Homo sapiens: one gene and its partners. The protein of the gene in region 7 purifies or fractionates together with the protein of the main gene of each other region. This does not show direct contact. Each region holds a gene or a part of one and is shown on either strand. Other genes may lie near its edges.

Region 1 (4,223 bases), on a different chromosome or scaffold from region 7:
CATGCAGTCACAGCCACACAGTCTTCATGTTTTGGCTTTTTTACAACAATAACTGTTTAAAATGGTAAAACCAGGCCAATGAGGGTGTAGGGTTGAGCTGCAGGACCCAGCTGCTCCTCTCCCCTCAGTGACCTTCCTTCCAGAGCCAGGCTCCTTCCGGAGGCGCAGGACTTTATCCACGGGAGGCAGCACTTTCCTAACAGGAGAGGAGACGCTGGTCCCCACGAGCCACAGGCAGCCCCACCCCACCTCCCTAGGGGGCCAGCAGCCATGCCCGTGCCCACCCCCACAGGGCCCAGCTGAGCGAACACCAGCCCACCTGGCACGAGGCGGTCCCGGGTGTACCACAAGGCGATGCCGTCTCCATGGAGGTTCTTCTTCCCTGTGCCGTGGACTTTGAAGTGGACGTGCATTTCCCAGTCTTTGAGGAAGCACGGCTGGAGGGAGAGCAGAATGGGCTGCTCAGAGCTCCCCAGGGCCTTCCAGCAAGCTGGAGGCAACCCCAGCACGGCCCCTGCCCCACAGACCTCTCTTCTCTCCCCAGCTAAGACTGGGCACTCCTTGGCACAGGGCCACAAGTGCCACTGACCACAGACCCCTAAATGTTCTGGCCGTGAAGGGAAGAGACTGTTGGGCACCAGGTGAGGTGGGGGAGGCCAGTGTTCCAAGGCTGCCTGAGGCCCAGACCCCGCCAGCAGACCTCAGGCTGCTCCTGAGTAGGTTTAGGTGGCTGCCACACTGTTCACCCTCATTACCAGCCAAACCCACCAGCCATTTCCTCTCCATCCACTGCTCTTGCCCTGGAACCTTCTGCAGACGTTACAACTCCTATTTGAGCAAAGTATTTTACAGGAAAACAAATTCAGAGGTGTAACAACTTGTCCAGAGCAGCTCAGTGGACTGTCTGGACTCACGCGCAGGGCTTTCTGACTCCGAGAGCTCTGCTCAGCGGACTGTCTGGATTCACATGCAGGGTTTTCTGACTCCGAGAGCTCTGCTCTGCCTTCAGTACTTCCCGCGGCCTGCAGGCCTTTCACATAAATTGCACCAGCCCCTTTCTGGTCACCCACATCCACTGCCACATCCACCCTGCTAACCAACCTTCCCAAGTGAGGAAAATCAGGCCGGGTCAGTGCTGCTGGCCTCAAGCCCAGGTCTGGCTGACTCCAAAACCCAGCCCTTCACCAGTTCACCTCCCCAGCCCAGCCTAAGTGTGGTACCAGCGCTGGGGATGAGAGCTGGTCAGGGTCGTGCTCTGGGACTCAAGGGCACCACCATGTGAGCTGGGGCAGGGATGGGCACCGCCTACGCCAAGGGAGAAAGCCTTGCCTTAGGCATCAGGAAGTCGCTTGTGAAAACTAAGGTGTCAACACACACGGTGACAAGAATCCACTTTCAGGAAGTCTGCAGATGGGTATGTAAGCAAGTGATTAAACAAAGACCCATCACAAAGGCAAACCCAAACAGGATGTTGACCTGTCAGACTGGCAACTGTGAAAAAGACCATTAACGTCCAATGCAGATGAGCATGAAGAGAAATGAATACAGGAGTAAAGGAACATGAACCAGTATTAATGATGGGTAATTCTGGGAGGGGGATTATGGCGACTGTTTACCATGTTTGAATAATGTATAATAAACATATTACTTCTGTGATCACAGAAAAATAAAAAACACTGTACCCCAATTTGAGCAATATGCTTCATGCATTCATTGATGCCACAGACTCACTGCTCCCACTCTGGGCACCAGGAACCCAGATAACAAAACCTAGGCCGAGTCCCCGAGAGCACAAAAGAATGGAAGATATAGAATTGTGGGTAAGAGACAGAGGAAACAGTGAGAGAGGCTAAGACTCATATAATTGGGATTCCCGAGTAAGATGTGAGAAATGAAGGCAAAGGAATATTTAAAGACGTCTAAGCACTTACTAAAACTGATTCAAAGACACGCCACAAACTTGAAAAGTCCTACAAACCAAAGGAGATGACTAAAAAGAAAACCATATTTAGGCACAAAAAAAGAAGGGAGGGATAGAGGAAACAGCAACAACAACAAAAAAGTTTTTTTTAACATGAAACTATTTTTTTCTAATTTTTTTCCCCGTGGTACAGCCCCAGGCAATCCTGAGAACGTGTGCCACAAAAGCATTTTTTCTTTCTTTTCAATTTCAACTTTTATTTTAGATACAGGGGCTACATGTGCAGGTTACATGGGTATACTGCACCCAGGCAGGGAGAACAGTACCCAATAGGTAGTTTTTCAACCCACGTCCTCCCCCATCTAGTCTGGAGTGTCTATTGTTCTCCTTAAAAACAGAGAATCTTGGCCGGGTGCAGTGGCTCACGCCTGTAATCTCAGCACTTTGGGAGGCTGAGGCAGGTGGATCACTTGAGGTTGAGGCCAGCCTGGCCAACATGGTGAAACCCCGTCTCTACTAAAAATACAAAAATTAGCCAGGCGTGGTGGTACATGCCTGTAATTCCAGCTACTTGGGAGGCTGAGGCGGGAGAACTGCTTGAATCTGGGAGGTGGAGGTTGCAGTGAGCCGAGATTGTGCCACTGCATTCCAGCCTGGGCAACAGAGTGAGACTCTTTCTCAAAAAAAATCAGACTCACTCTGTCGCCCAGGCTGGAGTGCAGTGGCACAATCTCTGCTCACTGCGAGCTCTGCCTCCCGGGTTCACGCCATTCTCCTGCCTCAGCCTCCCCAGTAGTTGGGACTACAGGCGCCCGCCACCACACCCGGCTAATTTTTTTGTATTTTTAGTAGAGACAGGGTTTCACCGTGTTAGCCAGGATGGTCACGATCTCCTGACCTTGTGATCCGCCCACCTCAGCCTCCCAAAGTGCTGAGATTACAGATGTGAGCCACCACGCCCAGCCTTTTTTTTTCTTTTTTTTTTTTTTTTTGTGAGACAGAGTTTCGCTCTTGTTGCCCAGGCTGGAGTGCAATGGCGTGATCTTGGCTCACTGCAACCTCTGCCTCCTGGGTTCAAGCGATTCTCCTGCCTCAGCCTCCTGAGGAGCTGGGATTACAGGCATGCGCCACTACGCCTGGCTAATTTTGTATTTTTAGTAGAGACGGGGTTTCTCCATGTTGGTCAGGCTGGTCTTGAACTCCCGACCTAAGGTGATCCGCCCGTCTCGGCCTCCCAAAGTGCTGGGATTACAGGCGTGAGCCACCGCGCCCGGCCATAAAAAAAATAATAATCTTAAAGAAAAAGGAACCAGAGGGAAAAAAGGCAATGACTCTCACAGGAGCAATAATCAGCCTGACACCCGGCTTCACGGCGGGAACAGCGGGAGCAAGAAGGCAGATGACTGATATGTTTGGAGATACAGGAAGGTAACAGCCAGCATGGGATTCTATACTCAGCAAATGTATCCTTCAAGAATGAAGGTAAAATAAAGATATTTTGAGACAAACAAACAAAAACCAAAAGAATTCATTAGCAGACTCACACTTTCATTCTTCAGGGAGAAAGAAAATGATCCCCATCCAGATGTAAAGTCAGATTCCAGAAGGAACGAAGAACAACAAATACAGTGACTATAAGGGTGAAAATCTAAATATCTGACTGCACAAAACAATGGGTTGTGTGATTTAAAACAGAAATAATTAAAACAAATGACAACAATAAATGGAGTTAAAGTGTGTTAGGATCCTTGCACTGTCCAGGAAGAAGGTAAAGTACACATTATCATTAGTCTTTGGTACAACATGAATGCCTGCTTTAAATTCTAGGGTGACCACTTAAAACTGAGAAAAGAGCATATAACTTTCAAGCTAATAGAAGAGGAAAAATAGGATAATAAAAATTAACCTAAAAGAAGACTAGAGAGAAAAATGAACAGAGAATAGGCAATTTGAATATATAGAGTAAGATAGCAGATTAAACCCAAATGTATCATATTTCATTAAATGTAAATGGACTAAATGCTAAATAAAAAAACAAAACCCAAGGGCACCTAGGATCTCTGTATTATTTCCTGCAACGGCATGTGAATTTATAATTATGTCAAAATAAAAAGTTTAATTTGAAAAGTAAAGAGGCCAGGTGCAGTAGCTCATACCTGTAGTCCCAGCACCTTGGGAGGCCATCATGGGAGGTTTGCTTGAGCCAAGGAGTTCAAGACCAGCCTGGGCAACACAGCAAGACTCCATCTCTATAAAAAAAAATAATAATAAGTATATAAAGATCAGAGATCTAAACTTAAGA
Region 2 (4,223 bases), on a different chromosome or scaffold from region 7:
CAGTGCTTAACAAACTGCCTGGCACCTAGGGGTTCTATCTGAAGAACAATTTAAACTTCATTGTTGCTTAAGCAACAATTCATCTAGGAGAATAAATATATGAGGACAGCAAGATGGCTCTGGAAAAAAGCTTTTTTTTTTTTTTTGAGACAGGGTCTTGGTCTGTGGGCCATGTCACCCAGTCTGGGGTACAGTGGCACAATCTTGGCTCACTGCAGCCTCCACCTCCCAGGTTCTTAGCCTCCCAAGTAGCTGGGATTACAGGTGTGCGCCACCACACGCACCTAATTTCTGTATTTTTAGTAGAGATGGGGTTTTACCATGTTAGCCAGGCTGGTCTCGAACTCCTGACCTCAGGTGATCCACTGGCCTCAGCCTCCCAAAGTGCTGGGATTACAGGTGTGAGCCACCGCACCCAGCCAGTGGAAAAGAGCTCTGACGGGAGCCCAGCCCTCTGGGGCAGCACATGTGTCGTAAAATGCTGGGTGATGCTCATCAGCACAGCACCCAACGGACCACTCAGAAGCACATCCTCCGTGGAGGAATCAGCGTTACCTAGGTGAGGCCAGAGAGGAAACAGGACAGTGCTTGTACAAGTGGCTGCCTGAAGTCTGAATCTTCACACTGGACTCCTCACACACAAAAAGTACCACATGCAACACAGAATTGTTTTGTTTTTTTGAGACGGAGTCTTACTCTGTCCCCCAGGCTGGAGTGCAATGGCATGATCTCGGCTCACTGCAACCTCTGCCTCCTGGGTTCAAGCTATTCTCCTACCTCAGCTTCCCGAGCAGCGGGATTACAGGCATGTGCCATCATGCCCAGCTAATTTTCATATTTTTAGTAAAGACAGGGTTTCACCATTTTGGCCAGGCTGGTCTCGAACGCCTGACCTCGTGATCCACCTGACTCAGCCTCCCAAAGTGCTGCGATGACAGGCGTGAGGCACCGCACCAGGCCCACAGATCTTAATTTAAAAAGTTTTATGAAAAAAATCAATGCCCTTTGAAAAACAGGCTGGGTGCGGTGGCTGATGCCTATAATCCCAGTACTTTGGGAGGCCAAGGCAAGTGGATCACTTGAGGCCAGGTGTTCAACACCAGCCTGGACAACATTGTGAGACCCCATCAATATAGAAAATAAAGTTTTTTAAAAAGGTAATGCTGGAGGAAAGCTTAGGATTGACAGGAAACACAGCCTTCAAGGGAAAATGCTTGCATTACACTGAAAAGTCTCTTTAAAACAAAAACTGACGAAACAAAGCAGTACTCACATATACTTTAGGCTTCGTTTCCACAAAAGGCTCTTCAAAGTCAGAAAAATGGAACCAGCATAATAGAAAAACTACAAATGGCCAACACAGATAAAAATAAGTTCAACCGGCATGGTGGCTCAAGCTTGTAATCTCAGCACTTTGGGAGGCTGAGGCAGGTGGATCGCCTGAGGTCAGGAGTTTGAGACCAGCCTGGCCAACATGGTGAAACCCCGTCTCCACTAAAAATACAAAAATTACCCAGGTGTGGTGGCAGGTGCCTGTAATCGCAGCTACTTGGGAGGCTGAGACAGGAGAATTGCTTCAACTCACTTGAACCCAGGAGGTGGAGATTGCAGTGAGCCAAGATTTCACCACTGCATTCCTGCCTGGGTGACAGTGAGACTCTGCCTCAAAAATAAAATAAAATAAAGTAAAATAAGTTCAACCTCAGGGAGGTGCAGATAAAATCAAGGAGGTATTCAGCATGTATCAGATTGGCAAGGGCTGGACAGTTTGGCACTTCTTGCAGGGCTTAGGAAGTGGGGAAACGGAAGGCATGATAATGAGTGCCTGGGGTGGGTGGGCACAACCACCGAGACATCAACCAGCAACGCCCACCAGTTTCTAAATCTGCATGTCCTGGAAATGAATCAAGTATCCAATAACAGAGTAACTGTTAAATTACGGTAAGTGGTTAAATAGAATATGAAGCAACCATTAAAAAAGCAATTAGTTGGTGGGGCACGGTGGCGCATGCCTGTAGCCGAGGCGGTTGGATCACCTGAGGTCAGGAGTTAGAGACCAGCCTGACTAAGGTGGTGAAACCCTGTATCTACTAAATACAAAAAATTAGCCAGGCGTGGTGGCGCATGCCTGTAATCCCAGCTACTTGGGAGGCTGAGGCAGTAGAATCACTTGAACCCAGGAGGCAGAGGCTGCACTCCAGCCTGGACGACAGATTGAGACTTCATCTAAAAATAATAATAATAAAATAAAAGTAAAAAACCAACTAGTTGAAGTGAATTCTATTGTATTAACAGAGTAAAAATGCCCCAAGTCCCAATGTTAAGTGGGGAAAAAGCAAGCTGTGGGTGACTGAGGACCATAAGCATCTGACCCTCTCAGCAATCTACACATGTAGGAACACTCCTGCCACTACATGCAAAATGCCAAGGAAGATGCACGGCAGTCGGTCACTACGGTGGGGAGACTTTTTTTCACAACATACCCTTACTTTTAAGAAAAAAAAAAAAGTGAGTATGTTCCTATTATTTCAGTTTTGTTTCTTCTAGGAAAAATAGTTGGCAGTATTACTAAAGGCCCTGAGCCACCAAACTGATAAAAGGACATTTGTTTTAATGATTCCTCAGAGCATTTCCAATTTGGTCTTCCTTCCCACCAATGAGGCTTCCTCCCTAGTGACTTTGAGATGGGAGTCTCGCTCTGTGGCACATGCTGGAGTACAGTGGCGCAATCTTGGCTCACTGAAACCTCTACCTCCCAGGTTCAAGTGATTCTTGTGCCTCAGCCTCCTGAGTAGCTGGGATTACAGGCCTGTGCTACCACGTTTGGCTAATTTTTGTAGTATAGTCCGTGTTTCGTTATGTTGGCCAGGCTGGTCTTGAACTCCTGGCTTCAAGGGATCTAACTGCCTCAGCTTCCCAAAGTGCTAGGATTACAGGCATGAGCCACTGGACCTGGCCCCTAGTGACTTTCTTAATAATCTTCCCCTTTTCCGTGACTCGTGGGTAGGCAGCGTCTCACGTGGCCATGCATGTCAGTGACCCACACAGCCTCCACACTGTGAGGTTAGCATGTCTCGTGGGCAGACAGCAGTGTCCTTGGATGTACCCGGGGGCTTTGTGCTGTAGAGATGTTATTTTAAATAATAAGCCAAGTCGAGGATGGGAGCGTTTCCATGGCAACTTGAATTTTAAAACCAAGATTTCTTTGGTTACTGTGGTGGCTGAGAACACAGGCAGCTGCCATGTCCAGTGGCTCTCAACTCCTGGAGGACAACCTGCCGTGGCCATTCCCTGGAGTCCCACAGGGCCCCCTCGCCACTTCACTAGCAGGCGACTTCCCTGCACCCGCCCTCCTTTTCATGGTTCCCAGGCCCTCCCACACCTCCCTGTGCTCCCTACTCATTCCCAGGCTCCCCGGGGCCACCGCTGCCAGCCCCAGGGCCCAGCCCATTCCACTAGTCCCAGGCTGAGCGCTGGGAAGTTCTTTCAGCCCCGCACCTTGGCCCAGGGCTGTGGTGTTCCTGGCTTCTCTGCTCCTCCCCTATGGTATCCAGGTTGGGGCTCAAGGGGCCGCCAGCGTGCTGCAACCGGACGATAAAATGAGCCCTGCACTTGGAGTCAGGAGACCTGCATTTGGATCTGGCTCTGCCACTGACTAAATGGCACCCTTGGGGTCTGACCTTCCCCAAGCCTCAGTTTCACCACCTATAAAATGGAGCTAGTAACCATCGTGTCTCAGGTGGCAGTCAAGAATGAAATGAGGAGGACCAAAGCGCCGGCACATGCCTGGCATGCAGTGATAAGGTAGGAAGGGCACTCGCTCCAGCGGGCTCTGTTCCCTCCCTCTCTCCTCTAACACTTCTAGCTCTCAGTTCACACTAAACCTATTCCAATAGGTCCCCAACGCCAGGAAGAGTCTAAATGAAAACAAGTTTGTTTTTTTTGTTTGTTTTAAGACAGGATCTCACTCTGTTGCCCAGGCTGGAGTGCAGTGGCACGATCATGGCTCACTGCAAACTCTGCCTCCTGGGCTCAAGAGATCTGCTCCCCTCAGCCTCCTAAGGAGCTGGGACTACAGGCATACACCACTACGCCCAGCTTTGTATTTTTTGTAGAGATGGGGTTTTGCTATGTTGCCCAGGCTGGTCTCAAACTCCTGGACTCAAGTGATCTGCCCGCCTTGGCCTCCCAAAGTGTCGGGATTATAGGTGTGAGCCACCATG
Region 3 (4,223 bases), on a different chromosome or scaffold from region 7:
CTTGTATTTCTGATTTAGCATTTCAGTCACTTCACTATGTACCTTTGCGTTTACAATTTAAAAAATACTTTCTCTAATGTAGACAAAAGAGCCATTTATATTTTTAAATGAATAACAATTTAAAAAATGTGTGAAACAGATGTGTTATTTTTCCTGGACTTATATCAAGATGAACAGACATGTATTCACAGGAGCATACATCAACTTGAATTCTATGATCTATAAGAAAAGCGCTGCTAAAAACCAGGTAACTGTAGTGAAAGGAAGAAACACTGGACTAACATACAGAAGACCCACGTTAAAGTCCCAGTTCGGTTACTTTGTCAGGTTAGTCATGTTACTGTTTTTCTAAACATTAGTTTTCTCTTATATAAAATAGTAATAATAAATACATACCTCATTGGGTATTAAAATTATGAATGGGAAGCCACATATACTAAAAAGCTCAGTAAACTGTAAAATGGCAAGGTATTGTTATTACTCTGTATTAATTACACATGACACATCATTCTAGACATTTTCAAAGATGCTCCAAGCTATCCTCTGAGAATGAATAAAAAAGAAAGATGATTTACCCACTTAAATAGTAATATCACTTCCCTACAATTAATTTTCTGACTAGATTACAAGTATATTAATAATTATAGAAAGTTTAAAATTTAATTTGAAATAATTAGGGGTTGAGAATAATTACGTTTTAGCAAAAGAGACAGGTGATAAAAATAGTATTTAAGAAAAATATTATTCAGTATCAAATACTAAAGACCATAAAAATTCTCAAAATTAGCCAATCACGTTTTTTTCAGGTAGCAGATTAAGGCAATTACCCAAAACTAAAAGTCTATCATTTTTAAAAAACCTGAAAAAAATCAGTTCTTTAAAAGATTTAACTTGTTAACTTCAAAGCAGTTTTTCCAAACCTGAACATTCATTTTAGGTACTTACAGCATGCCCAAGTACTGCATGTGCTATTTCATGGCCCAGAAGGAAAGAAAGTTGATGAATATCGGTTACACTATTTAAAAATCCAGTGAAAACAAACATTTGTCCATTCTGCACCACAAAGAAAATAATGTAAGCAATTAGAACATCATAAAAAATAAGGACAATAAATTTAACAATTACAATGCGTTTGAGAACATTTACTTACTGGAAGCACGAAGGCATTAATAATTGGGGAATCAACCACATGAATAACCCAATTGATCTGAGAGATCCCTGGAACATCTTTATTGCATTCAATTAGATGACAAAGCACTTCTTTAACAGCCAGGTATCGGGCATCTTTCTCAGTTAGCATATCATTTTTAAATTCTTCCATCCACTGAAAGATTAAAAATTACTTCTTATTTTAAAAGAGCACTACAAAATGCTTACTCTGCTTCATGGAAAGTTATATGGCTACTTATTATTGAACATTTTAAGTTTTAATTATATAAAAATCTGCATATATTAAGCACTGAAATTTCTCAAATCTGAATTATTCATGCAAAGACAATGTGGTTTCTTACAAAGGAATAAATTCTAATACTAAGTTTTTTTATGAATAGATTGACATCAAAATTTCATTCTTTTCGATTAAACTACAAACGAATACTTAAGTATTATTTCTACTTTCCTAAACATTTTAGAAAACACTGCCTAGGCCAGGGCAAGATGGCTCACGCCTGTAATCCCAGAACTAGGGGAGGCCAAGGCAGGAGGATCACCTCAGCTCAGAAGTTCAAGACCAGCCTGGGCAACATGGTGAAACCCCGTCTCTACCGAAAACACAAAAAATTAGCCAGGCGTGGTGGCATGCACCTGTGTTCCCAGCTACATGGGAGGCTGAAGTGGGAGGATCGCTTGAGTCTAGGAGGTGGAGGTTGCAGTGAGCTGAGATCTCGCCACTGCACTCCAACACCAACCTGGGTGACAGAGGGAGATCCCATCTCAAAAAGAAAAGAAAAGGAGAGCCTGGAGAACTTAAGATTTCATCTAAGTAAAATACAAAAGAAAATTAAATTCACAATGCATTGAACAGAAAAACACCCTATACCTAATAAGAAAGTTAAACTACCAAAATAGACATTTCATTAATTTTAAGGTGTTTTACTCACAGATTGAAAGGAAATTACTGAATTCTCAGAACTAATGAGCATTATCACTGTCTCTAAAAGATGCTGATTAAGACTAGCCACCACAGAAGATACTTTTTCTGAAGTTATATTCATGAGAGCTCTTTCAAGTGTACTGAGAAAATTAAAAATGTTCTGAAATATTACTTTAACTTTCATAAAGTGTATGCTTTTTTTCACTTAAGAATCAACAAGCGGCTGGGCATGGTGGCTCATGCCTGTAATCCCAGCACTTTAGGAGGTGGGCAGATCACGAGGTCAGGAGATCAAGACCATCCTGGCCAACACGGATGAAACCCCATCTCTACTAAAAATACAAAAATTGGCCAGGCGTGGTGGCGCACGCCTGTAGTCCCAGCTACTCGGGAGGCTGAGGCAGGAGAATAATTTGAACCTGTAAGGTGGAGGTTGCAGTGAGCCAAGATGGCACCACTGCAGTACAGCCTGGGTGACAGAGCAAGTCTCTGTCTCAAAAAAAAAAAAAAAAAAAAGATTCAGCCATGCCAAAGCTGTCAAGTGAGGCTACTGGACATGAATTCGAAAAATATTAATTGAGCCACAGGGCACATAACATGTGTATGTGCTATGAACTGGAGAGAAAATGACCTCTGTCCCTAAGAAACTCACTAGGGTACAAAATGTTTAACTACCTGAGTTACTATACTTTCCAAAGAGGTAAGACTTCTAAATTATAACTTAAATTTGGATTCAAAAAATATAATAAATTGCTAAAACTGATGTTTGGGAAAAAAATCTTATATTACTTGATTTTCAAGGTATAAGAATTCTGACTATAAATCTATTTATTCAATAAATATATACTAAGCTCTACTCTTACATACTGTGTTAGTATTTAAAACCATAAACAAAACAGGTAAGATCCCTGCCCCCATGAAGCTTAGTCTAACAAGAAAGACAATCAAAAAAATAATTATGCAAATAATTATGTTACTCTCATGAGTGCTTTGAAGGAAAAGTACAGTATGCAGAGAAAAAAAGCCTAGGAGACCTAACCCCAGTAAAGCCAAGCAATGGGCGCAACTACAAATGAGCTGGTTCATAATTCAGTCGGTATGAAGGATACCTCCTAGGGCCTGATCCAGTCACCCTGCCTAACCCAGTCTGGATAATCAAGGAAGGTTTTCCTGAGAAAAGTGACATTTAAGGTGAAATGTGCTGAGCAGGAGTTAGCTGGGTGAATGCTAGGAAAAGCAATGTAGGCAGTAGGAATACTAAGTGTGAAAGGTCTGAGGCCTTCGGGAAAAAAAAATGCTAATTTCATATCAAAGACTAAAATTAAAAAACAACATATCTTTCACATTTAAGATACTTTCCTACTTTGAGTGTTATATTAAGCAGTCTAATTAAAAACAACTCTTACTACTTACTGCTTCATATTCCAGTTCCGATAAAAGTCTGAACTGTTCTTTCCCCAATAATAGTAGCTTGCTCCTTCCTGTGATTGGACTTACTTCCAGGTGAGTAAAATAAAACACCACAAAGAGCAATCCAAAACTACTCAAACCAAGGAATAGCTTCCATTTATTCTTCCTTATATTTTCTTTAACTACTTCCTTCTTGTTAGGAGGAAGTGCCTGCCACCATTTCCTTATGCCCCTAAAGCAAAAAGAAAAATTCAAAGTTCTGAAAATCATTCCAGCACATATCACTAAAGCTCAAATGCATACACTAGAATTTTACGTCCTCAAATACCTGAATTTGTATGATGTATTTCGCTGAATACATCGCTTTTCCAATTAATAAAATTCTTAGCTAAATGATGAAAAAATAATCAATGATGTAAAGTTACAGTTAAAAAATTCTAATACTCATCGAAATTTTCTTCTTCAGCTATTTTAAGGATAAACACTAAATGAGATGCTAGTTTACTATAACTACCACTGGTTAATATTTATTACTATCTAGTACATGCAAAATTCTCTCTCTCTCTCTCTCTCTCTGTATATATATATATACCATCTCATTTAATCTTCATAATAACCCTGTTACAGAAGATAAAATTGTTAGGTAACTTGTCCATGGCCACTGAGGTAATAAAAGGAAAACCAAGCAATGAAGGCAATGACATTCCAGAGTCTGACCACT
Region 4 (4,223 bases), on a different chromosome or scaffold from region 7:
GGAGAATTTTGGTCTAATTGATGGTCGCCTCACCATCTGTACAATCTCCTGTTTCTTTGCCATAGTGGCTTTGATTTGGGATTATATGCACCCCTTTCCAGAGTCCAAACCCGTTTTGGCTTTGTGTGTCATATCATATCCTTTATTTATGCTCAGGTTGTTTTCTAGTGACTATTTTTTTAAATCTGCTGATATTTCTCCCTACAAAAAACAAAACGGACTTTCATATTAGGGCTTGCTAATGTTAGAATTCAACATTTTGAGCTGTGATGTTTATATAGTAAATATCTATCAGTTTATATAGTAACTGTCACTGATATTTTATGTTTTGTATGGTTATTTTATCGTAATTCATTTTTGTTATTAATGTAGAGGTTATTGTCCTAATATGAGCACTTAATAGCAAAACACATAGTAATAGTGAACCCAGCTCTTCTCATTTCTAGCCCAGAACTTTTCCCGTTAGACGTGGCTGCTTCAAGCCACTCATTCTAGGATATTAGGAAAGGATCTGATTTTGGAGACTCAGATCTGTATTAAGTTTACTTGAAGCTGAGGAGCTGAACTGGAAAGTACTGAGCATGAGATACAAGTGTGGCTTGTATTACAGTGGAATTAAGAACTTATTCTGGAGCTAGAGAATATGGGTTTGAAATCCAAGGTATCTGTGATCTTGTGCTAATGAAAATTTACTTATTTTTGAGATGATTTGAATACCACTCATTTATAAATATGGGTAGCATTCAGAATTATCATAAAGATTAAATGAGAGATTTTATATTGTATTTGATACATAATCATTTCCTTTCCCCTCTTTTTTATGATAAATGTAAGATCATGGTCGTTGCCTACCCAGCGTGATTTTTTTTCTCAAGAAGTTGAATATAAAGAACTTAATTATACTTCACTATTAAAATAGGTAATTTTGGTTGGTAGTTTACTTTTTTAAACAATGTTACCACTACCTAAATTTTGTTTTGTTTTCTTTTTTTTGAGACAGGGTCTTACCGTGTCACCCAGGCTGAAGTACAGTGGTGTGATCATGACTCACTGCAGCGTCAGCCTCCTGGCTCGAGCAATTCTCCCACCTCAACCTCCTGAGTAGACGGGCACATGCCACCATGTCTGCCTAATTTTTAAATTTTTTACAGAGACAAGGTCCTACTACGTTGCCTAGGCTGGTCTCAAAACTCCTGGGCCCAAGCAATCCTCCCAAAGTGCTGGGATTACAGGCATAAGCCACTGTGCCCAGCCAACCTGAAATATGTTTTAAAACTTCATGTTGGGGATTTATCTTCAGAGGCAGTTAGCAAACCTCTGATAAAGCAGATCCTAGTCAAAAATTGTATTATCCAGATTGCCCCACATTTCCCCCAGAAGTGGCACCAGGTGATCCTTGACTCCTTTCAGTAATCAGATTAATCATCCCAGTATGAATTTTTCACTATTAAGGCAGTTCAGAAGAATAATATTCCATAGGTTCTAGAGACAGTTCCCAGGGGAATTCCAAAGAGATTTGAAAATGATAGCAACATTATTACAAATATCTGGCCTCCCAAGAGAACTACCTTGATGGTAATTCATTTGTTTGGTTATATTTGTTTAATAAAACAAGGTCTTATTTTTGTCATGTCAGTTTTATTTATAATGTAGGGACTACCATTATAAATGTCTTCTGTTGCTGGGCATCGTGGCTCATGCCTGTAATCCCAACACTTTGAGAGGCCAAGGCGGGCGAATCACTTGAGCCCAAGAGTTCAAGGCCAGCCTGAGCAACTTGGAGAAATCTGTCACTACTAAAAATACAAAAATTAGCTGGGCATGGTGGCGCATGCCTGTAGTCCCAGATAGTTGGGAGGCTGAGGCACAAGAATCACTTGAATCCAGGGGGCGGAAGTCACAGTGAGCCGAGATCTGCTACTGCACTCCAGCCTGGGCGATAGAGCAAGACTCTGTCTCAAAATAAATAAATTAATTAGATAAAATAAAAAATAAATTAGCTGGGTGTAGTGGCACACACCTATAATCCCAGCTACTGAGGAAGCTGAGATGGGAGGATTGCTTGAGCCTGGGATGTTGAGGCTGCAGTGAGCTGAGATCATGCCACTGTACTCTAGCCTGGGTGACAGAGTGAGACCCTGTCTCAAAAAAAAAAGTCTTCTGTATCCTAGACTGCATATATCCTTCATCTCTAAATCTCATGATAATTCTAAAACATCAGTATTATCCCAATTTTAAAGGTAAGGATACTAAGACTTGGGGAAGGAAGTTATTTGTTACAATCATACTGATTAAAGGCCAAGATTTAAATCTAGGATTATCTCTACTCTAAAGTCCATATACTTTGTACTATATTTTCCTGCCTTTCCTGTTCATGAAATTTATCTATTTTTTAACTCTTCTTTAATGGAATGCTTCATGAATTTGCCTGTCATCCTTGTGCTAGGGCCATGCTAACCTCTGTATCGTTCTAATTTTAGTATATGTGCTGCCGAAGCGAGCACTGTTCATGAAATTTATTTTTATTTTATTTATTTTATTTTTATTTTTTGATACAGGGTCTCACTCTGTTGCCCAGGCTGGAGTGCAGTGGCACGATCTTGCCTCACTATAGCCTCTGCCTCCCAGGTTCAAGTGATTCTCCTGCCTCAGCCACACAAGTAGCTGGGATTACGGGCCTGCACCACTACATCCAGCTAATTTTTTTTTGGTTTTTGTGGGTTTTTTTTGTTTTTTTTTTTTTTTGAGACAGAGTCTTGCTGTGTCACACAGGCTGGAGCACAGTGGCACGATCTCGGCTCACTGCAACCCTGCAACCTCTGCTTCCTGGGTTCAAGCCATTCTCATGCCTCAGCCTCCTGAGTAGCAGGACTACAGGCATGTACCACCATGCCCAGCTAATTTTTGTATTTTTGGTAGAGACATGGGGTTTCACCATGTTGGCCAGGCTCATCTCGAACTCCTGACCTCAAGTGATCTGCCCACCTCAGCCTCCCAAAGTGCTGGGATTACAGGTGTGAGCCACCACGCCTAGCCTTAATTTTTGTATTTTTAGTAGAAATGGGGTCTCCCATTGTTCCTTGTTGGCCAGGCTGGTTTCAAACTCCAGGTCTCAAGCAATCCACCTGCCTCGGCCTCCCAGAGTGCTGGTATTAAAGGTGTGAGCCATCGTGCCCAGCCTTGTTTATGAAATTTAAATGGCACAGTATACACAAAGCTCTTATGCCAGTTTTTGGCAAACTATAAGTGCTTATTAACTATGGTACTTAATACTGTCAAAAACAATATAATAATAAGTCTATATGCATATAGGAAGTAATCGTAGTACTATTTGACATACTCTCTTATAGTAAACTATTTGGGTCACTTTTCTTCTCTTAATAACCCTTAAAATCAGTTGAACATGGTCAAGTCCACTGGGACTATTCGTTGTTTTTTATAAAGAAATAAGCACTATTATAACAAAGTCTTGACAAACTAGGTATCTTATTATACATGTTGTCTTTGAACATAAAGATGAGAGCTAGTTTATGCTCTGTATCTTTTTCTTTTCTTCCTTTCTGAGGTGTTTGCAGAATTAACCAGAGAGAGCCTTGCTTCTCTTGGTATATAAACATAAGGATGAAAATGAAATAGCTAAATTTTCAGTGTTTTGGCAGCAAGACAAAGCTGTCTTCTTTAGGACTATCATTATGAAAGTTTTTATATCTGTTGCTTGTCAATTTGTGTTACTTCTCTTTTATGTTTGGGTATTTTCCCCTTAACTTTATTTGAACCTATTTTGTGATGATGGGGATTCTGACCATTTATACCTCATATAAGGAGAAGAGCATCTTTCTCGTGGCCCACAGGAAAGATCCTACAGGAATGGATCCTGATGATATTTGGCAGCTGTCCTCCAGTCTTAAAAGGTATGACTATCCTCACAGATTTTTAAATCCTGGTGTTGGATTTGCCCTGGCATGTTGTCATTATCAACAGAAGACTTATTATGTGCCTACTCTATGTGGATCATAGGGCTAGTCATATAAAATGAAGAAAGGAGTATGGATGATCTAGAAGGTTTGTCCTAGCCCTATAGTTCTGAGATTGCGTTATCACAGAAATGCTCTGAGGATAAACTGTGGGAGAAGGTACTTTTTCCTGTGGCCAGTTAACAGAGACGATTAAGCATACAAAAGTATAAAGGCCAAAGATGTGAGATCAGTTATCTTTGAAGAATT
Region 5 (3,744 bases), about 15 Mb from region 7:
TTCATTCCTCTCTTCCCCAGAATGCTTGTCACTTTTGTTAGCATCTCACAGAGATTTTGATCTTGGAGCATTTTGGACTCCTTTTTAACTGGGGTAGAGTTTAGAGGCTGGGCAGAGATGCTGGGGATCTGTGTTATTTACAAAGGGAACTAATGTGGAACCTTGGTATCAAGATATGCCCAGGGCCTGAGTAGGGCCTGTCCCAGGACTCACAGGCAGACACATGGTCACAGAATGCCAGTAGCCCAGAAGAAAACAGTAAAGAAACAAAGAAAACAAAATAGGTCACCATTTGAAGCCCTCTCCTAAGCCTAAGGGGTGAAGGCCATGTTTTCAGGCTCAGCCCCGCATCTCTCCCCTAACCCCTTTTCTTTAAAGGGACAGGGTCTCCCTCTATTACCCAGACTAGAGCACAGTGGCATGATCACAGCTCACTACAGCCTCACCCTCCTGGGCTCAAGGGATCCTCCTGCCTCAGCCTCCCAAGTAGCTCAGACTATAGGTGTGTGCCACCACACCCAGCTAATATTTTTTCTAGCAATGGTGTCTTGCTCTATTGCCCAGGCTGGTCTCAGACACTTGGACTTAAGTTATCCTCCCACCTCTGAAAACGCTAGGATTATAGGTGTGAACCATATGCACCCAGCCTCCATCTCTTGTTATATGCATTCTTGTGGCTGGTGGTCGGGGGAGGGGTGGGGGAGGGACAAGGAGCAGAACCGTGGTAAAAGGAGGCAAGGGACGAGGCAAAGAGGCAGAGCCAGAAAGTTCCTCATTTTATACATAAGGCATTGGGGCTGGAGGAAGAGATTTTTTGAGCAGAGCAAGAAGACTGGAGCAGAAGGGAGGAAGGACAAGAGGCTGTGATGTGATCTCTAGTTTTGTTTAACCGTGTTCCTTGTCTTCCATATTCCAGATGTTTTGAGGAACACTCAAAACACCTGGTCCTGTTGGGGCCATCAATCCTAGCACAAAATAGGCCAGGTGCGGTGGCTCACGCCTGTAATCCCAGCACTTTGGGAGGCTGAGGCAGACGGATCACATGAGGTCAGGAGTTCAAGACCAGCCTGGCCAACATGGAGAAACCCTGTCTCTGCTAAAAACACAAAATTAGCCGGGCGTGGTGGTGTGCACCTGTAACCCCAGCTACTCAGGAGGCAGAGGCAGGAGAATCGCTGGAACCCGGGAGGCAGAGGCTGCAGCGAGCCAAGATCGCACCACTGCACTCCAGCCTGGGCAACAGAGCGAGTCTCCATCTCAAAAAAAAAAAAAAAAAAAAAAATTCCTAGCACAAGACCTAAGCCAGTCTGTCTGAATATGTGATGCTATTGGACCTGGAAAACAGTGAGCACTGGGCATGTCACCCGAGCAGAGCAGCGTGTCTTCACTGGCTGACGTATCATGGTAGACGAAAGACAGTCTTTTAGCTCTAGGGCTGCAAAGCTGGAAAGAGTAGACTCTAGGGCTGCCACTGGCCATCTTTCTACTTTGTGAAAAGATCTTGCCTGCAGACTGAGGCCAAAAAAAGATACACAGGGCTAAGGCGTGGGCACAGAGCCCTGGTATGTATGTGTACATACATACATACATACATATATATATATATATATATATATATATTTTTTTTTTTTTTTTTTTTTTTTGAGATGGAGTCTTGCTCTGTCACCCAGGCTAGAGTGCAGTGGCACGATCTTGGCTCACTGCAACCTCTGCCTCCAGGGTTCAAGCGATTCCCTTGCCTCAGCCTCCTGAGTAGCTGGGACTACAGACGTGCACCACCACGCCCGGCTAATTTTTTGTATCTCAGTAGAGACAGGGTTTCACCATGTTGGCCAGGATGGACTCGATCTCTTGACCCTGTGATCCACCCTCCTCGGCCTCCCGAAGTGCTGGGATTGAGCCCTGATATTTTTGAGACTCTGGATCTAAGCATGGTTGAGGCTAGAACTCCAATTTCTTAGTCTTTCCAGTTATATAAGCAAATACATTCTTTTTGCTTAAGCTACTTTTTTTCCCTTTTTTTTTGCTTAAGCTACTTTGATAGAGTTTTAGTCACTTGCCACTTATGAGAGTTATGATTAATATGGGCTATAGAGGAGGGAGATTAGATTTGTTCTAGATGATCCCAGAATTAAGACTAAGGTCTAAAGATGGAAGTCACAGCAAGGGAGACTGCAGTGTGAATCAAGACCTTGATAATGACAGGAGCTGTCCAGAAAGAATGGGAATGTTAGGAGGGAGTGTCTTCTCTGTTGCTGGATGTAGTAGAGCAGGGGTCTGCAATCTTTTACTTAGAGGGCCAGATTGTAAATATTTTAGTTTCTGCAGGCCATATGGTCCCTGTCGCAACTACTCAACTCTGCCATTGTAGTGTGAAAGCAGCCATGGACAGATATGTTAATGAATGACCATGGCTGTGTTCCAATAAAAATTTATAGAAACAGGCCTGCTGGCCCACGCGGGCTGCAGTTTGCTGACCCCTGAGCTAGAGAATCATCTGTTGAGACTGTTAGAGAAGAGGGGCACAGTCACCAGACTGGAGGTAGGGGTACAGCACTACACTAAATGATCCTTCCAGTCTTTTCCAACTTGACTGTTTTTGGGAAACGGCATTCCCAGCTTCGATCAACTGACCTACAACTCTATTTTGCAAATACGCCTGACTGCCACAGAGGACTGCTTGCTTCTGGGCTCTGGAGACCCAAAGTACAGCAGGTCAGAGTAAGTCTTGAGTATTAGTTTTGGAGGTGAGGGGCCCAACAGGGCTCCTCCAAATTCCTCTCAATGGCTCATCTGGTTTGTGTATCATGAATGAATCTAGTAAAACTGTCGTGGGGACATCTGTATTCTTGCCCACGTCTCTCTCTCGGGACAATGAGCTCTGTGAGTTGCCCTAGTCAGGTAAGCCTGGCTCCCTCTTATTATTGGGCCACACTTTACCTATGTGGGGTCACAGAGTTAGGAGGGCTCCGAGGTGCCTGTGAAAAACTTTCCCATCCTCTCCTTACTCTGCAGGATTGAACAGTACTTGCGTGAAGAAGAGAACACCTGCAGAGACAGGATACCTGCAGCCCTAAATTTGGGTTCTACTATTTAGACTATTTCAGCATTTTGTGCTTTTATCTTTATTAACTCCTTTCTACTTTTCTTCTTTCATGTTACTCTTATCTTTTCCTTTTTCTCAAGGTGTTATTAGTCCCTCTTATTTCCTGTGAAGAGCACTGCAGGTGACATATTGCTTTCAAGTCCTGCTTTGGCTATGGCTATACCTCGTAAGTTTTACAAGCATTATTCACATTGTCACGTATCCTGATGGCCTTTGTCTCCCAAACATACAGAATACAGATTCTTTCTTTCCTAAAAAGATCCATCTTCTAGAGCAGGAACAGTTCTAGGTGGCTTTGGTCCTCCCCATTCTGGGTGGAAAAGGAAGATTCAGGCACTTGGGTTTTTCTCCCAGCATCCTCCTCCTGACCTTCCTACCCTATGAGGACTAAGAGGACCTCCTCAAGGAGGGCAGTACCTTGTTAACGAAATAAAAGATGGCATAAACCAGGACGTAGAATGCAGAGCCCCCGGAGACTAGGAAATTTCTCCACCACCAGCGGTAATCCTGAGGAGGAAACAGAGGAAGGTCAGTGTTGTCCTGGGGCAGAACCCCTTCCTACCAATTTCACAGTTGCTTGAGGGGCTGAAGACTCTGGTAAGAGCAGTAACATATGGGGTGATGGAAATGTTTCACAG
Region 6 (4,223 bases), on a different chromosome or scaffold from region 7:
ATGACCAAGAAAGCATGTTTAACCTTAGGAAAGGCAAAAAGAAAGACCTCGGGCAATGTGAAATCACTTTATATAAGACCAGAAATGTGCCTGGAGATATCACCAACCTCCATTTTTTTTTTTTTTTAACTACAGAGGAATCTTAAAGAGTGACTCTTCTAGATGACAAGTTAGTGGGTGCAGCACACCAGCATGGCACATGTATACATATGTAACTAACCTCACAATGTGCATATGTACCCTAAAACTTAAAGTATAATAAAAAAAAAAAAAGTGACTCTTGTGTAGTAAAAAAAAAAAAAAAAAAAAAAAAAAAACACTGATAAAATTTCACTTGTTTCTTTTTCTTGTGTTAAAACTTAGTAATTTATTAAAAAGTAACACAGATGGTATGAACCCAGTCATCTAATTACATAATATATAATGGCATCCCTGTGTGTGCAGACATGGAGAGATGCTTCAGTGTTTACCCTGGTTATTTCTGGTGGTAAGATGTTGGGTTGTTATTTTCATCTTTCTATCTTCTGTACTGCTGTAATATTTTATTAATGAGTTTGTTTCATTTTCAGAAAAACAAAGTCACGATTCTTTAAAACAGATGATCTGGTTTTACACAAATAAACCAATGTGAGTGAACTAAGTTTTTGGTTTCTTAGCTGCAATCTGGTCAAACTGACCCAAGCCTAGAAATTTAAAACTTTCCATTAGTTGTTAAGTGTGGTGCAGATAAACTTTATGTTGGTTGAAAATATATAAAACTCACCCTTGTAAAGCTTTATGAATTTGTCCGCACTTTTCCTTCAACACTGCAAAAATACCTAGATGAAAAAAATACGTTTGAGAGTCTATTTGAAACTTATGATAGTACTAACCTAAAAATATTTTTGAAGACCCAGATCAAGTTCATCAATTTAAAATGCTACAAATCCTTCTACATACTAACAGAGCCAAGAACCCATACTCCCCTGAAGGCCCAAGCTTTGTCTCTGGTGCGTGCTAACTGGCCCCTTCTCACCTCAGTATCCCACTTTCAACAAACCTGGAATGATGCTTTCAAGAACAATCAATGCCTCTTGTTCTCATCAAGATCCTAATCTGGCTAAGAATCAAAGGGTACAAATTTATTGCTTATTTCTTTATCCTAAACAATTTGGTAAAAAATCAACTATAGTAAAGTAATTTTTACAATCTTTTCTTGATATTTTCCTTTTTTATTCAAGGAAAATCCCAAAACTAAAGTATCTGATCAGAAGGTAGGCGTGCCAGGCCATCTGAGAAGCAAGCATATGAATGAGCACAGAGACACACATTTTCTGGTTCTCTGAATTAGTATCAGTGATGAAGATTCAGAAATACTGTACCGGGTAGGGCCTGCTGCTCCCTTTCCGTTTTAAGCTTTGCAAAGGTGGCACTGTCATAGCCAAAGGCCACATTTTAAATTCTTAGTAGACTTTTTATTTTTCCCACTGAGTAAGTTCTTTGCTGGTAAACCCGGCTTGGCCTCAGTACCAACTGATGATTCAAAGGCTAAAGGTGAAAACTCACAATATTTATAAAATTGCACAGATAAAAAAGCAGCATGCTTCAGCTGATTTCTCAAAAAACTATTAACCAAATAAAGACTGGCTTATTTACACCAATGGAACGTTTAGGCCCAGAACTGGCTGAGAGCCCCTCGTCCTCCCAGCATCTCCACCCACTATCTGAGCTAGCCTTGCTTTGGCTCTGGCTCTGGCCCCAAGCACAGGAGAAAAGCTCTGACCCCAAGTCCTTGGGGCAGGAATAGCTTCTTCACTGCCATTCTTCCTATGAATGCCATATAATGTAACTGCAAACCAGTTTTGTCTGGCAAATAATTTCTCCAGTAAGTAAATCAGTAACACAACTAACGTAACCTGAAATCTCTTTGATTCCTTGGGTTTTTAAAGGGTTATACCTGGATTCTCTTCCATGATGTTGAGGGCCTCAATTGCTGCAGCAGCTAACAGGGGAGGTAACGAAGCTGAAAAGCAGTATCCCTGGCCGGAAAGTCGCTGAGAAGAAACAAATGAAGACATATACACATTCTCTGTCCTTTCTAGGTAAACATTTGAAAGGCACCAGTTCTCTAGAACAACTACTGAACAGTGTGTACATGTGGTGAGGGGGGTAAGATCCAGCCATAAATAAACATTATACGTGTAACAGCAACAAGACTTTTTGTTAAATGTGAGATCATTTCTAAATAGAAATATTTTGAGTGATTCTTTAAAAATTGACATTTAAATAAAAATTGTGTGATAAACTAAGTAAAATTTCGTATTTCAAAATTATATTTTGAGGTGACCAATGGAGAAATTAGTTTCAGTTTTAGCTCCTGTTTTTAAAAAGAACCCACCTGATGGTCAATTACAAAAGACCTGCCACAGCAGAAACCTCCAATAGAAGCAAGTGCATTCTCCATGTTGGCACTGATAAGATCAATATCATCAATCTGCCGGAAAAGGAGGAGTGACAGTTATTCCACAGTTTAAAGAAAAAAAAGGCCAACTTCAAGCCTAGAGACAAAATTTAACAGCATTAAACTGTCTGTTAATATCTGGATTCAAACTACCTATCTACATGAAAATAAAAAATAAACCATATAACATCTATCGCTGAATGAACTGTAGTCTCATGGCCCATCTGAAACTGTCTCATTTTATACATTTTTACCATTTCATTATACATGACAAATTAACTCACAGCAAAGACAAATAAATTATAAGAAAATAAAACCCAAAGCTGTTCGATATTAAAAGTAGTCACAGGTACAAAATAAGACTATTTCCTCGCTAAAACAGTGGTCTAGCTGGCCTTCCTCATGGGATGCACTGAGATAAATAAAAAGTCTATCGAAGTTTTGAGCACTTTATTCTTGTATTCAGTTTGCCTCTCAGCATTTCATAAGTCAATTTATCCAAACGTCATGGCGATGGAATCTTTGACCAACTGGACAGCAGAAGAACCTAATGTGCTCTAAAATGACCTAATGGGCTTTGAGTCCTACATCTTTCTGACCACTCAGAACTCCTTCGGTCCTCATCTTTGGGTCCAGCCCTCAGCACCAAGTTCCATTCTGGGCACACAGTAGGCATTCAATCATTACTTACTGATGGCCATGTTAATGGATTGTCAGAACACAGCTAGTGTTTTCCTTAGTGTTTCATAGATCCAGCAGAGTTTTGAGAAACTCTGCACTCCTGCCCTTTTTAAAAAGCATGTTTAAACCTTTCATTATGAAAAATTTCAAGCCTGAACAAAGTAGAACAGAACAAAGAATCCCCATCACCCAGATTCAAACATTATCAACTCAAGGACAACCTTGCTTCACCTATATCCCCTACCACCCTCATCATTTCTTTGTAGTGAGTCCCAGACTTCATGGGGTTTCATCTATAAACATTGCACTGTGTATTTCTAAAAGATAAAAACTCTCTCAAAACATAATCACAAAACTAGTATCATACTTAAGACATTAACAATTTTTAAATGTTAAGTTTAAATTTGATGTTAAATATATTCAAATATTCAGTGTTCAGATATCTCTGATTGTCTCACCAAATTTTCTTTTAACAGCATTTGTTTGAATCAGGATCCAAATAAAGCCCGTACATTCTGCTCTCTACTCTCAGGCGCTTGTGAGTATTTCCTCACAGTATTTCCCAAAGTGACAACTGCTGGAAGCATTCACAAAACTACAACAGTGAAGTTCAAGTTTTTTCCTCCATAAAAATTTTCATGCCTTAAAAAAGGCTGTAGTGTACTGCTAAATCTGCTTGAATTACACTTCCATTTATCTTTCCATTTATTCCATTTACCTCCTCGGTGCATGTAACTGCTGAATGTCAGTCTGCCTTGGAGGAGGTGCTTCCATCCAACCTCCCGGGATATTCACTCTGCTTTACATTTTTCTCTGGGACTATATGGTTAGCGGGATGTCGATAATGTAAGGCAATTTTACGTTTTATAGTTCAACTCTGTAACACAGGTTGCACAGCTCTTATGCGCATGTTTTGGAGAAAAAGCTTTCTGTAACTCTTCCCATGGTGGTTGGTAAGACAGCTGTTCAAGACTGGCTGACTTCCTCTGCCCTGAGGCTCCAGGAGCAAAACCCACTAGGCACTGCGGGCAGTCTGGGTCCATTTCCCTCAGAAAAGGAAACATGACACCTCATTCTGTTTGGGACTTTAAGAGGTTTTGCT
Region 7 (4,223 bases):
CTGAACTCCCCTCAATAACCTGAAGACCTGATGTGATCCTACCCATCTGGCCTGTCTGACCCTCCACGCTCTTCCCTTCCTCCCTCTGTTCCAGGCACACTGGCTTCCTTGTTGTTCCTTGCACATGCCAGATACATGCCCACCTCAGGGCCTTTGCACTTGCTGTTCCTTCTGCTTAGAATGCTCCTCCCCTCATCATTACGTGGGTGCCTCCTTCTCACTAACTTAAATTCCACCTCCTCTGAGACGACTTCCCTCCCTCACCACCCACTCTACTTCAGCCACAACCCCTTTCTTCTTTGTTCCTCCTGTGTCAACCTGGCCCTCTCAACATATTTTGCTCTGCTTCATTTTCTCCTAATTACTCATCACCAACTAAAACGCTCTTGTTTATGCATTTGTTGGCTTCCCTCCCCCATCAAATGGAAGCTCTTGAGGACAGGCACTTTGTCTTCCTTAATCTCAGCATGTTTCCTAAGGCTCTGAACACTGTCTGGCACAGAGTAAGGACTTAATAAATAGCCACGGAATGAATGCATGAAGCCCACAAGCGTTTTGCGTGCAATGTTTAAAGGCCATAGTTATGATATTTTGCTACTCCAAGGTCCTGTGACTCTAAGATAGTTTATGGTTTTAAGATTCTACTCTTCTAGCCTCCTGTGATTCCATAATCAAATGATTTTTAAATCCCCATGAGCTGGGTCTTAAAGTCAAATGAAAAGGCACTGTAGGGAGACACAAAACAACTCAAGGAAAACAGTTTGTGTGTGACCGGACAAAACTCATAGTGCCGGCCGGGCGCGGTGGCTCACGCTTGTAATCTCAGCACTTTGGGAGGCCGAGGCGGGCGGATCACGAGGTCAGGAGATCGAGACCACGGTGAAACCCCGTCTCTACTAAAAATACAAAAAATTAGCCGGGCGTGGTGGCGGGCGCCTGTAGTCCCAGCTACTCGGAGAGGCTGAGGCAGGAGAATGGCGTGAACCCGGGAGGCGGAGCTTGCAGTGAGCCGAGATGGCGCCACTGCACTCCAGCCTGGGCAACAGAGCGAGACTCCATCTCAAAAAAAAAAAAAAAAAAAAAAAAAAAAAAAAAACTCATAGTGCCCAGGCAATAAGGAAGACAGGAGGAATGCCCGCTTGCAAAAGGAAAGCACAAAGACTAAAATCCTGAAGCTGTGTGCTTGGGGTGTGCTACAGCTCTTCCCCCAGACCCACCCTGTCAGCTTCCTACCGTCTCTTCTGGAACTGCTGGTCTATCTCTGCCAACGACTGGCCTTTTGTTTCAGGAACAAATAAATAGATGAAGCCCAGGCCGAGGACAGCGGTCAGTCCGTAGAGCAGGAAGGTCCAGGACAAGCCGATGGTGCCTGGAAACAGGAGGGCGGGAGTGTAGGCCCAGGACCAAGCACTCTGGCCCCGCAGCCTGGGCCAACTGGTAGGTTCTAGGTCAGGCATGGAAAGTCAGTTCACTCAAAGCAAATGTTCCCGTTGGTCAATTTGCAGAGTGACCAATAAGCTGTCAGTGAAGTACCTTAAAGCGGAAATCTCGCTGATTGTCTCAAAGGCGGGGATGAGCCAGGACGCAAGTCCACAAGCACAGAGACAAAGGCAACTTGTGTTTATGGGAAAGGCCCCTCACCCACATCTAGAGCACTATCCCGTGGAGCACGCTTGGGCTCCGAAAGCCTGGCCTGAGGGATCGTGGATCCAGCTGAGTGGCCAAACAGCTGCATGGACACGGCCTTGGCAAATCTCAGTTTGAAAAAAAAAAAATCCTTAGAAATTTCATGAATTGGGCTTGGTGCAGTGGTTCATGCCTGTAATCTCAGCACTTTGGGAGGCCAAAGTGGGAGGATCACTTGAGCTCAGGAGTTCAAGACCAGCCTGGGCAACATGGTGAAACCCTGTCTCTACTAAAAATAAAAAATAAAAAAATTAGCTGGGCATGGTGGCACACACCTGTAGCCCCAGCTACTCGGGAGGCTGAGGCTGGAGGATTGTTTGAGCCCCGGAGGTCAAGGCTGCAGTGAGCCGAGATCATGCCACTGCACTCCACCCTGCACTCAGGGCGACAGAGTGAGACCCTGTTTCAAAAAAAAAAAAAAAAAAAAAAAACACACCCAGAAATTCCATGAATCGGTCATTCAGTGAATTGATCATTCAGAGAATTGAGTTTCAGCCAGTTTGACCTGTGACTGGTTTGGGAGAGAGGACAAAAGCCACAGTTCAGTCCCAGAGTCAGCCTCCTCCTAGAGCCTCCGGTGGGTCTCAGAACCAGCAGCCAAGATGGGAATGACCCTGAGTCATTTGATGTCATTCATCCCAAGACAGAGAAGAGGCTGTGGAGGAAGGATCTTTGTCAAGGTGGAAGACAAATTATGTTTTGGAAGCCATTCTCACCTCTGACAGCCACGTCCATACCTCCTTTAGGCAGCCTCCCATGACCAGCTGGACCTATCGCCAGCAGGGAGAGCAATGGGCTGGAAGGCAGTGGGGCTGGTTCTAGTCTTTTGACTCCCTGGCTGGACGGGGTAAGGATGTATTTTCCCATCTGTGAAATGGGGATGATATATGACACAATTCTAATAAATTCCTTCCTTCCTTCCTCCCTCCCTCCCTTCCTTCCTCCCTTCCTTGTTTCTCTCCTTCTTTCTCCTCTCTCACTCATTTACTCCACACAAAGGGAAATGCTTGAAGACTGAGGCTGCAGGGAGAAGCTTGGATTCCCTAAGACTGGGGTTGGAAGACAGCCATGATAGGGGGGGTTCTTCCACTGGGGTTTCCCACAGCACTGCCCCCCAGCCTCCCAAGTTGGCTGCACCTTTGGGAAGGAAACTCTTGGCCATAGGGAATAGGAAAATAACTGAACCCTAAGAACTGTGCCTTGGGGACCACAGTGAAGGAGCCTGTGTACTCTGGCCCAGATGAGCAATACCCACTGAAGACCAGGGCCTGGAGCCATGAGCATCTCAGCATCTCAGAGTCATTCCCTGGTGTTCTGGGCCCACATCATTTCCACCCCATCCCACCACACCTCAGAATGGGTTTCAATGCTAGGGAGGAAGAGATGATGTCACCCAAACTTGATTTGAGAAAAACTTCCAGGCCAGACACGGTGGCTCATGCCCGTAATCCCAGCACTTTGGGATTACAGGTGGATCACTTGAGGTCAGGAGTTCAAGACCAGCCTGGCCAACCTGGTGAAACCCTGTCTTTACAAAAAATACAAAAATTAGCCGGGCGTGGTGGCGGGTGCCTGTAGTCCCAGCTACTCGGGAGACTGAGGCAGGAGAATAGTTTGAACCCGGGAGGTGGAGGTTGCAGTGAGCTGAGATTGTGCCACTGCACTCCAGCCTGGGTGACAGAGCAAGATTCCATCTCAAAAAAAATTAAAAATTAAAAAGAAAAGAAAAGCCAAGAAAAACTTCCACCTGGCAGGTGTCATGAACCAGTTTAAGCCAGTTTGGAGCAAATAAACATTGCTACTCTTACTCCTGCCGGTTGACCTCAGATGACCTCTCACCAGTACTGGGTGTAGACCATCACCCATTAGCTGGCCTGGGGAGTTTTACAGTGCATATGAGGGTCCTGGATGTCGTCTTGGACATTTGATGATGTTTCTGCACAGAATAATAGTTCTGCAGCTAATACATAGGAAAATCCAAAAATTTCTGCTTTAGAGTAGGGAGCTTGGGCCACAGAAAAAAAACGGACTTGTCTGGGAAGGACTCACCAATGAGATCGAGGAAGGAGAGGCTGATGAAGAGGTTGGCCGCCCAGTTGAAGCTGTTGCAGAAGGCGAAGGCTCTTCCTCGTATCTCCACAGGGTAGATCTCGCTGAGGACAAGCCAGGTCACTAGGGTGGGAGAGCAGGAGGGCTCCTGGGCTGTGGTGGGACCTGGGGCCTGGCACCATCAGGTCAAACATGCAGCCTCTCAACAATGGGATTTTCTAGTGTCAGGCTCCTGATACTAAACTCCCACTCCCATTCTGCTATAAGAATTACAGTAGAGTCTCAGTTTGCTGAAGACTGAGAGGTTTTCTGAGACATGAGACTTTCAATGCCGAGATGGGAACAGTCTTGGACGAACTGGGATGATTGGTTTTCACGCTATTCATTAAATTCCTTCCAGTTGTGAGCTATCCGGGCTTTAAGGGACCTGAAGCTCAAATGACTTGGGGAGGCTTTTAAGGAATACAAATTACAAACATAAAATTAGG

Evidence for each region.
Region 1: the proteins of SLC2A10 (region 7) and LMAN2 purify together in Homo sapiens (affinity purification with mass spectrometry; one large-scale study listed by BioGRID and IntAct). This does not show direct contact.
Region 2: the proteins of SLC2A10 (region 7) and CTSB purify together in Homo sapiens (affinity purification with mass spectrometry; one large-scale study listed by BioGRID and IntAct). This does not show direct contact.
Region 3: the proteins of SLC2A10 (region 7) and OMA1 purify together in Homo sapiens (affinity purification with mass spectrometry; one large-scale study listed by BioGRID and IntAct). This does not show direct contact.
Region 4: the proteins of SLC2A10 (region 7) and SPCS2 purify together in Homo sapiens (affinity purification with mass spectrometry; one large-scale study listed by BioGRID and IntAct). This does not show direct contact.
Region 5: the proteins of SLC2A10 (region 7) and TM9SF4 purify together in Homo sapiens (affinity purification with mass spectrometry; one large-scale study listed by BioGRID and IntAct). This does not show direct contact.
Region 6: the proteins of SLC2A10 (region 7) and SPTLC1 purify together in Homo sapiens (affinity purification with mass spectrometry; one large-scale study listed by BioGRID and IntAct). This does not show direct contact.

What each region holds. Positions count from the first base shown.
Region 1 is NC_000005.10:177,338,169-177,342,391, forward strand, and holds part of LMAN2 (vesicular integral-membrane protein VIP36 precursor), read right to left. Parts: intron 438-4,223; coding exon 320-437; intron 1-319. UniProt on the Homo sapiens protein: Plays a role as an intracellular lectin in the early secretory pathway. Interacts with N-acetyl-D-galactosamine and high-mannose type glycans and may also bind to O-linked glycans.
Region 2 is NC_000008.11:11,854,360-11,858,582, forward strand, and holds part of CTSB (cathepsin B isoform 1 preproprotein), read right to left. Parts: intron 3,582-4,223; exon of another isoform or gene 3,499-3,581; intron 1-3,498. UniProt on the Homo sapiens protein: Thiol protease which is believed to participate in intracellular degradation and turnover of proteins. Cleaves matrix extracellular phosphoglycoprotein MEPE. Involved in the solubilization of cross-linked TG/thyroglobulin in the thyroid follicle lumen.
Region 3 is NC_000001.11:58,533,008-58,537,230, forward strand, and holds part of OMA1 (metalloendopeptidase OMA1, mitochondrial precursor), read right to left. Parts: intron 3,735-4,223; coding exon 3,506-3,734; intron 1,325-3,505; coding exon 1,151-1,324; intron 1,054-1,150; coding exon 946-1,053; intron 1-945. UniProt on the Homo sapiens protein: Metalloprotease that is part of the quality control system in the inner membrane of mitochondria. Activated in response to various mitochondrial stress, leading to the proteolytic cleavage of target proteins, such as OPA1, UQCC3 and DELE1.
Region 4 is NC_000011.10:74,965,789-74,970,011, forward strand, and holds part of SPCS2 (signal peptidase complex subunit 2), read left to right. Parts: coding exon 1-135; intron 136-3,776; coding exon 3,777-3,911; intron 3,912-4,223. UniProt on the Homo sapiens protein: Component of the signal peptidase complex (SPC) which catalyzes the cleavage of N-terminal signal sequences from nascent proteins as they are translocated into the lumen of the endoplasmic reticulum.
Region 5 is NC_000020.11:32,161,145-32,164,888, reverse strand, and holds part of TM9SF4 (transmembrane 9 superfamily member 4 isoform 1 precursor), read right to left. Parts: intron 3,614-3,744; coding exon 3,524-3,613; intron 1-3,523. UniProt on the Homo sapiens protein: Associates with proteins harboring glycine-rich transmembrane domains and ensures their efficient localization to the cell surface.
Region 6 is NC_000009.12:92,045,236-92,049,458, forward strand, and holds part of SPTLC1 (serine palmitoyltransferase 1), read right to left. Parts: intron 2,474-4,223; coding exon 2,378-2,473; intron 2,034-2,377; coding exon 1,937-2,033; intron 819-1,936; coding exon 764-818; intron 1-763. UniProt on the Homo sapiens protein: Component of the serine palmitoyltransferase multisubunit enzyme (SPT) that catalyzes the initial and rate-limiting step in sphingolipid biosynthesis by condensing L-serine and activated acyl-CoA (most commonly palmitoyl-CoA) to form long-chain bases.
Region 7 is NC_000020.11:46,726,499-46,730,721, reverse strand, and holds part of SLC2A10 (solute carrier family 2, facilitated glucose transporter member 10), read right to left. Parts: intron 3,908-4,223; coding exon of another isoform or gene 3,859-3,907; coding exon 3,736-3,858; intron 2,554-3,735; coding exon of another isoform or gene 2,429-2,553; exon of another isoform or gene 2,095-2,428; intron 1,370-2,094; coding exon 1,234-1,369; intron 1-1,233. UniProt on the Homo sapiens protein: Facilitative glucose transporter required for the development of the cardiovascular system.